2 linked regions of the Homo sapiens genome follow. The protein of the gene in region 1 interacts with the protein of each later gene in a biochemical or structural test. Each region holds a gene or a part of one and is shown in the gene's direction. Other genes may lie near its edges. The genes, in order: PSMD14 and TXNL1.

What was found.
Region 2: the proteins of PSMD14 (region 1) and TXNL1 form a complex in vitro, tested with the Homo sapiens proteins (one study listed by BioGRID).

Annotation. Positions count from the first base shown.
Region 1 is NC_000002.12:161,388,405-161,392,230, forward strand, and holds part of PSMD14 (26S proteasome non-ATPase regulatory subunit 14), read left to right. Parts: intron 1-2,699; coding exon 2,700-2,774; intron 2,775-3,826. UniProt on the Homo sapiens protein: Component of the 26S proteasome, a multiprotein complex involved in the ATP-dependent degradation of ubiquitinated proteins.
Region 2 is NC_000018.10:56,610,767-56,614,592, reverse strand, and holds part of TXNL1 (thioredoxin-like protein 1), read left to right. Parts: coding exon 1-169; intron 170-3,495; coding exon 3,496-3,600; intron 3,601-3,826. UniProt on the Homo sapiens protein: Active thioredoxin with a redox potential of about -250 mV.

The DNA of each region.
Region 1 (3,826 bases):
ACTCATAACCAGACTGCTTCATTCTTTTATATTATCATTGGAAATTTAATTAATTAATTTTGGCATAGAAAATATATATACAGTTAAAAAAATTTAAAGTACAAAGTCATTTAGCAAAAACTCTCCCTTCCTCTTTTGCCTTCTGCAACTCAGTTCTCCACTCTAGAGGGAACCACAAAACACATTTTGTTTCTTTTCAGTTATTCTATTTATATTCAAAAAGCTTCATTTTAGAACGTGATTTAAAGGATATCAGTTACCACCGTATTTTCAGTTTATCAATATAAAATAAATTAAGGCAAACAAATTTGTCTTTAGATCCAAGCACACCTTTTTAAGGAGCATGAAAACTTTTAAAAACTTATCAGGAACCCATGAATAGCTTATATATAATCCGTAAGCCGTGTGTTTTATAATGCACCTGCTTTTCCACAGCAGTGAGTGCATAGAGGTAAAATCATAAGTCAGTTGGTCTTGTGTAGTTCTACATGAACCCAAAAAGGACATGGCCGGTTGACTTATGATTTGGGAGGAAGGCACTGGGGGCACACAGCAGGTGAGTAAGTGAAATTGAAAGACTACTTGAGGATATCATTTGATTTAAACTTACCTTTGTTTTGTTATTGTTATACCTGCTGATCTTTCATGCTGTCTGTGTTAGTTTTAATGCTTTTATCTATATAATGTAATTGAAAATCAAGTAGATTGTGCCTTCAGACACCAGTTAATATTTCATTAGTACAGTTAGTCTCAAAAATATAGGGCCTAGTATCTGTGAGTCCATTAACTGGCTTCTGTATGTATTGGCTACAGCAGTTACTAGCTTTATGACCACCATGTAGGGTTGTGCAAGTAGTGAGTGCATCGCGCAAATGTGCTTGGATGAGGGAGCTTCCAGCTCAAGCTCCACTCTCTACGCCAGACTATGTCTGCTTAGAGGACTGAGCACCTTTTTCTAATTCTCTACCAGGCTGATTCACCTCCTAATGTACACGAATATGAGCACAGATTAAAGGAAGCCCTGATCATTTCTACTTTTTGATCTGTACAGTATAGCATTTTTATGCACTAAAATTTAATTCATTGCTTCTGATGATTATTGAAATGAGTAAGGATTTAATATACACTCTTGGTACTTTACAATCAGTCACTGCTCCCTATGGAATTTCATAGCTCACTTTTATAACAGACATTGGTAAAATAAGAATCTATTGTTAAAGTACTCATCTAAAATATTTTAATACTCATTGGAGTGATTTTTGCTAGCAAAGCTTAAAAATTAACATAATGCTTTGTTTCATCCTGATCCTTAAAGTAAATAGACTTAATCCAAGAATTTCCTGACATGTATTGTGGCATAGTATGTTAGAAAGAACATAGGCTATGGAATCAGAATGACCTAGGTTCAGATCCCCATCTAGCCTTTTACTAGCTAGAAACTTGGACAAATTAATATTTGTGTCTTATTTTCTTTCTTTTTTGTTGTTTTTTTTTTTTTTTTTTTTTTTAGAGATGGGGTATTGCTATGTTGTCCAGGCTGGTCTTGAACTCTTGGGCTTAAGTGATTCTCCTGCCTCAGCCTCCCAGAGTGCTGGGATTACAGGCTTGAGCCACTGAGCCCGACCCTGCATTTTATTTTCATCTGTCAAAATACAAATTGAATTGCCCTACCTTACAGTACTATGAAGATTAGAAGATGTAATGTGTAAAGCAGATACTAGCTGCTCATTAAATGTTCTCTTCTTTACCCCTTCTTCCTCTACCTCAGTGACATCTTAAGACCTACATTGTAAAAGTCTATTAGTTAGAGAAGTGGTGGTTATTTTGGTTAGTTTTTCTCTTTAGATTCCTGAGGGTTAACCCCAAAGTCCTTTTTGTTTTTATACTTGTTAAAAATATCCCTAAAGGTTTATTTCTGACTTTCATGTTTTTCTAGGCTGCCAGAGGATCCTTTAGGTCCACCAGAGTACTGTTGAACCTCATTTGAACACTTGATGTTGTCAGAGTTAGATATGGGGGCAGTTGTGAATTGATTTCAGGACATCCAGGATTATTGTTTCTTAATAAAGCCATGCTATTAGCTTAAGATTTTATTATGATTGGCCTGTTCACCTTGGAGACAGAGTGAGGTGAAAAAAATTCTGGTTGGTGAGATTGCATGTCACTGGATAAGAGCATGAGCTAGACAGACCCAGTAAAGACCAAAATCCACATAGTTAATTTGGAGACATGCATAACATAATTATTTGAATCAATCAAAACTGAATTAGGAAAAGGGGAATTCCAGATTAATGTGGGTAAAGAAACAGCTGTGTTATTGTGGCTTTTTAGGCTTTTCATTTGAAATACCCATGAGCCCCCTAGATATCATAAAGTTAGATTTAATAAATTATGAATGATTTATAAACTTAGCTTATGATAAGATCAAACCTTATCTCTGACTGAGCAAGGCTACTGAAACTGCTTAATTTGTGCTCCTCCATATCATGCTTTGAAGAATGTGTAACCCGTTCCTCTAAACCTTAGTTTTAAACTTGTAGCTAAGAAGAATACTTTAATTTCATCTTAATTTACTTGAAATAAAATGCCTTTATTAGAGGATGGTACAGGTATTATGTAAGAATATATCAACAGTTTCAAACATTTTTATTAGGTGAAAAATATTAATTTGTCCTTTTTAAAATCATTTATCTATATAGGCATTAATTCATGGACTAAACAGACATTATTACTCCATTACTATTAACTATCGGAAAAATGAACTGGAACAGAAGGTAAGTTTAAATTTTTATCTTATAGGAGGAAAAAAATCTTTTTCAAACCATTTAAACTATTACCTGGTATGTGATTTAAATTCGAATTTTTGACCTCTTTCAGTGTTTCCAAATATTATTCCATTATTGATGAATTGCAGCACAAAATAAGGGAATATTTTATTGGACTATTTAAAGACACATTTCACCTTATTGGTAGGTGCTGAAGTGGGAGAGGAAGTAGGAAATAAATCAAACGTTCCACTTTGGTTTTATGATAAGTCATAAAAATATTTCTTTTAGTTCTGTGATTTTTCTGATTAACTTATCTTCTTCAATAAAAAGGCCTTTTGTAATTAAATTAGTAATATATTGCTCTGTAAATTTGAGAGGAATAACTTAAATTGCAGTTGTGTAGTGCTTTTTGTTTGTTTGTTTGTTTGTTTTAAGAGATAGTAGGGTCTTGCTCTGTCTCCCAGACTAGAGTGCAATGGTGTGATCATGGCACACTGCAGCCTTGAACTTTTAGGCCCAAGGGATCCTCACTCTACAGCCTCCCGAGTAGCTGGGACTATAGGCATGCACCACCACACCTGGCTATTTTTTGGGTGGTGGGTGGGAGGTAGAAACGGAGTCTTGCTTTGTTGCTCAGGTTGGGCTTGAACTCCTGTGCTCAAGTGATCCTCTCACCTCAGCCTTCTAAAGTGCTGCAATCATTAGCATGAGCCATTGCACCCAGCCTAGTGCTTTTAGAAAACATACCATGTTTACTCTAAAGAAAACTAAGCTGAGTCAAAGGGAAACAGTTTTAGGGTTTTCAGATAATTTGTACTAGATTCTGATCCCATTTTATACCAGTTTTCAAGTTTGATTAGTTTTTAACATTACCTGACGTTTTGATGAATTAGCATTCTCATTTGTTTCTATTTTAGGATTATTTCTAGTACAGTTTTTCTCTCAACTAATGCCAAGTATTTAAATCTGCCTGTTGTTTTTTGATATTACAATCTGAACCAGTTTCCCCCCTTTACTATTACAATTAGTCATCCACCTAATTAGTTTCTTGTATTTCT
Region 2 (3,826 bases), on another chromosome or scaffold:
GGGCCCTAAATATGTAAAAATTTTTATCAACCTACCCCGATCTATGGATTTTGAAGAGGCAGAAAGAAGTGAACCAACTCAAGCTCTGGAACTGACAGAGGATGATATTAAAGAAGATGGCATTGTTCCACTTCGTTATGTTAAGTTTCAGAATGTTAACAGTGTAACTGTAAGTAGTATTTCGTTCATATGTATTTAATAGGTTTGTGAGTAACAATACTATTTTCAGTATCCTAGGTAAGTCTAAGTGATTCTTTAAAGTGGTATTTATTCACTCAGTTTGAAATGAGTAAAATGTTTAATGGGATAAATTTTCTTCTTTTTAATTTATGTACCCTAAAGAGGAAGGACAGATTGATTTTTGAATATTTGTGGGGTTTTGTCAGTTATTTTATATGTATATGGTAAGTTTTGCTGGAAGTTTATTCTACAACTTTATACTAAAACTGAAGATATTTGTGCTTTATTCTTTATACCTGGTATAGTAGTGATGTGTTTGTAAAATCTTATTTACTTTTCTTGAATATGGAGTTTTTAAGTGTGGTGGTCATGATCTTAGTAAAAATGACTTTTTATTTATTTATTTTTTTTTGAGATGGAGTCTCGCTGTGTTGCCCGGGCTGACTTGAACTCTTGGGCTCAAATAATCTTCCCGCCTCAGCCTCCTGAGAAGCTGGGATTACAGGCATGCACCACTGCACCTGGCTTAAAAATGACTTTTAAAAAGATAATACTACATTTTATAAGATGACCTAAGGTATATCTGAATTTTTTCTTCCTTTGAGGCAGGTTCTTGCTTTGTTGTCCAGGCTGGAGTACAGTGGCACGACCTTGGTTCAGTATAGCCCTGATCTACTGGGCTCAGGTGATTCTCCCTCAGCCTCCAGAGCAGTTGCAACCGCAGGCACGTGCCACCTCACCCAGCTAATTTTTTATTTTTGTAGAGGTGAAGTCTCTCCCTGTGTGGCCCAGGCTGGTCTCAAACTCCTGGGCTCAAGCAGTCCTCCCACCTCAGCCTCCCAAAGTGCTGGGTTTATAGGCTTCAGCCACTACACCCAGCCTTTCTGAAGATTGACTAGTGCTTGAGGTGATTTTAAGTGATGTATTTTAGATGTCATTATTAAAGTGCCACTCTCAAGAATCAGCTAATTTTTAGCAGTTATTAATTGCTTTTAAAAAATTTAGCATTGAAACCCAGCTCACACTTCTCACCTACAGTCATTTAGAGGAATGGGTAGGACAGTTAGAAAAGAATAGCAGAATACTTAGAAAAAGAAAGTAGGAACCAGCACAGAGCCACTGAGAATGTCATGCCAAACTGGTACAGCTTGTTTGTTGTGATGGAATAATTCTATTTTTGTAAATTAGAAGAATGCTAAAGTATGTGTTCATTTAAGAATGTTTTTGAGAGTTTCACAGAATATACATAGTAGTAGTATGAAGAATTATAATTGGCTGGGTGTTGTGGCTCACTCCTGTAATCCCAGCATTTTGGGAGGCCAAGATGGGCAGATTGCTCGAGCCCATGATTTTGAGACCAGCCTGGGCAACATGGTGAAACCCCATCTCTACAAAAAAATACAAGAACTAGCTGGGCATGGTGATGCGCCTGTAGTCCCAGCTACTCTGGAGGGACCACTTGAGCCTGGGAGATTGAGGCTTCAGTGAGCTGCAGTTGTGTCATTACACTCCAGTCTGGGTGACAAAAAAAAAAAAATTATAATCAAGTTGAGTTTTAAGTATTAGAAATATCCTACCCAAATGAAATCAAAGAAAATTGTTATATTAAACTTAGTATACTCATTATCAAATATTTTCTTGAAATAACATATGGCTGCCTATGAAAACAATAAAAACTGACGAATGAGTGGCATCTCAGAATGAAAGAAGTATGTTGTTTAAATCACGAGAGGCAGTTTTTAACTGGTCATGGGAGTACGCTGGTAGTCCCAGCTACTTGGGAGGCTTAGGCAGGGGCATCACTTGCACTAAAGAGTTCAGGACCAGCCTAGGTAACATAATGAGACCTTGTCTCAAAAAAGAGATAGGTGCAATATTTTAAAGTAGACAGCACCTAGAATATTGTGTTTTTAGAAATGGAGCAAATTTCAAAAATCCAATGTATGACAAAGGATCAATGAGTAAAACTTTTAGTTTTTATCGTGCTGAGGGGAGTTATTAAATATAGAGTCAAGCTTAAAAAAAAAATGAGGCACATAGTATTGTTTTAGGAGCTGATTCCCAATACTATTTTTTCTTTTAATATTCTAGGAAATAGAATGGATACAGGAATATCAGAAAGAATATCACTTTAGAGATTTTCCTCAGTGAAAAACTATGATTTTAATAAAATTTCCAATGATAGTCTGTCCCATTGTAATTGTAACTCTTAATACCCTTTCAACATTCTCTATAAAGAATTTAATTGCTGGGCGCGGTGGCTCACACCTGTAATCCCAGCACTTTGGGAGGCTGAGGCAGGAGGATTGCCTGAGCTCAGAAGTTCGAGACCACCCTGGGCAACACAGTGAAACCCTGTCTCTACTAAATTTAAAAAAAAAAAAAAAAAAAAAAAGATTAGCCGGGCGTGGCAGCATGTGCCTGTAGTCCCCCCTCCTCAGGAGGCTGAGGCAGGAGACTTGCTTGAACCTGAGAGGTGGAGGTTGCAGTGAGCTGAGATGGCACCACTGCACCCCAGCCTGGGCAACAGAGCAAGACTCCATCTCTTAAAAAAAAAAAAAAAAAAATTAGCCGGGTGTGCTGGTGGGCTACTCAGGAGGCTGAGGCTGGAGAATCGTTTGAACCTGGGAGGCGGAGGTTGCAGTGAGTCGAGATCGTGCCATTGCACTCCAGCCTGGGCAACAGAGTGAGACTCCATGTCAAAAAATACATATAGAGAGAGAATTTAATTGTGACTCTGCCATACTATCACACCAAGTTACCATGAACTTATATATATGGGTCTCTTGCCATGACATCTCTGGAGAAAGTGAGAATAGCAGGGCAAACAGCCCTATAATTAGTAGTCCTATCCTATAGGAGTACTAGTCTTAATGTTATATAATTTTGATTAATTTTTTTTTTTTTTTTGAGCCAGAGTTTTGCTCTTGTTGCCCGGGCTGGAGTGCAGTGGCACGATCTCAGCTCACTGCAACCTCCACCTCCTGGATTCAAGCGATTCTCCTGCCCCAGCCTCCCGAGTAGCTAGGATTACAGGTGCCAGTCACCACACCTGGTTAATTTTTTTGTGTTTTTAGTAGAGATGGGGTTTTGCCACGGTGGCCAGGCTGGTCTCGAACTCCTGACCTCAGGTGATCTGCCCACCTCAGCCTCCCAAAGTGCTGGGATTACAGACGTGAGCCACTGCACCCAGCCTAGATTAATTTTTACAAAGAATGGAGAATATTTATGTTATTAATTTAAGGAAATTGATTAAACTTAAAGCATGTTTGTGAAGAAGGATTGTAATTATAAATGCAAACTTTTTTTTGGTAGATATTTGTTCAGTCGAATCAAGGTGAAGAGGAAACAACAAGAATTTCATATTTTACTTTTATTGGTACTCCAGTCCAGGCAACAAATATGAATGACTTCAAACGAGTAAGTTTGCTTAAATGATACTTCGGGATAGTAAAAATATAATTTTAATGGAATAATTTCATGTATCTCAACTGTCACACTTTCTTTTAACAAAATAATTCAAAATTATATCATGTCATGAAATTTTACAAGGCTAAACTAGGATAGAAAGTTCCCCTAACTATATTTTTAGATATCCAACAAAGTAATCTTTAATAAAAAATGATGTCTTAACTGATAAAAGAGT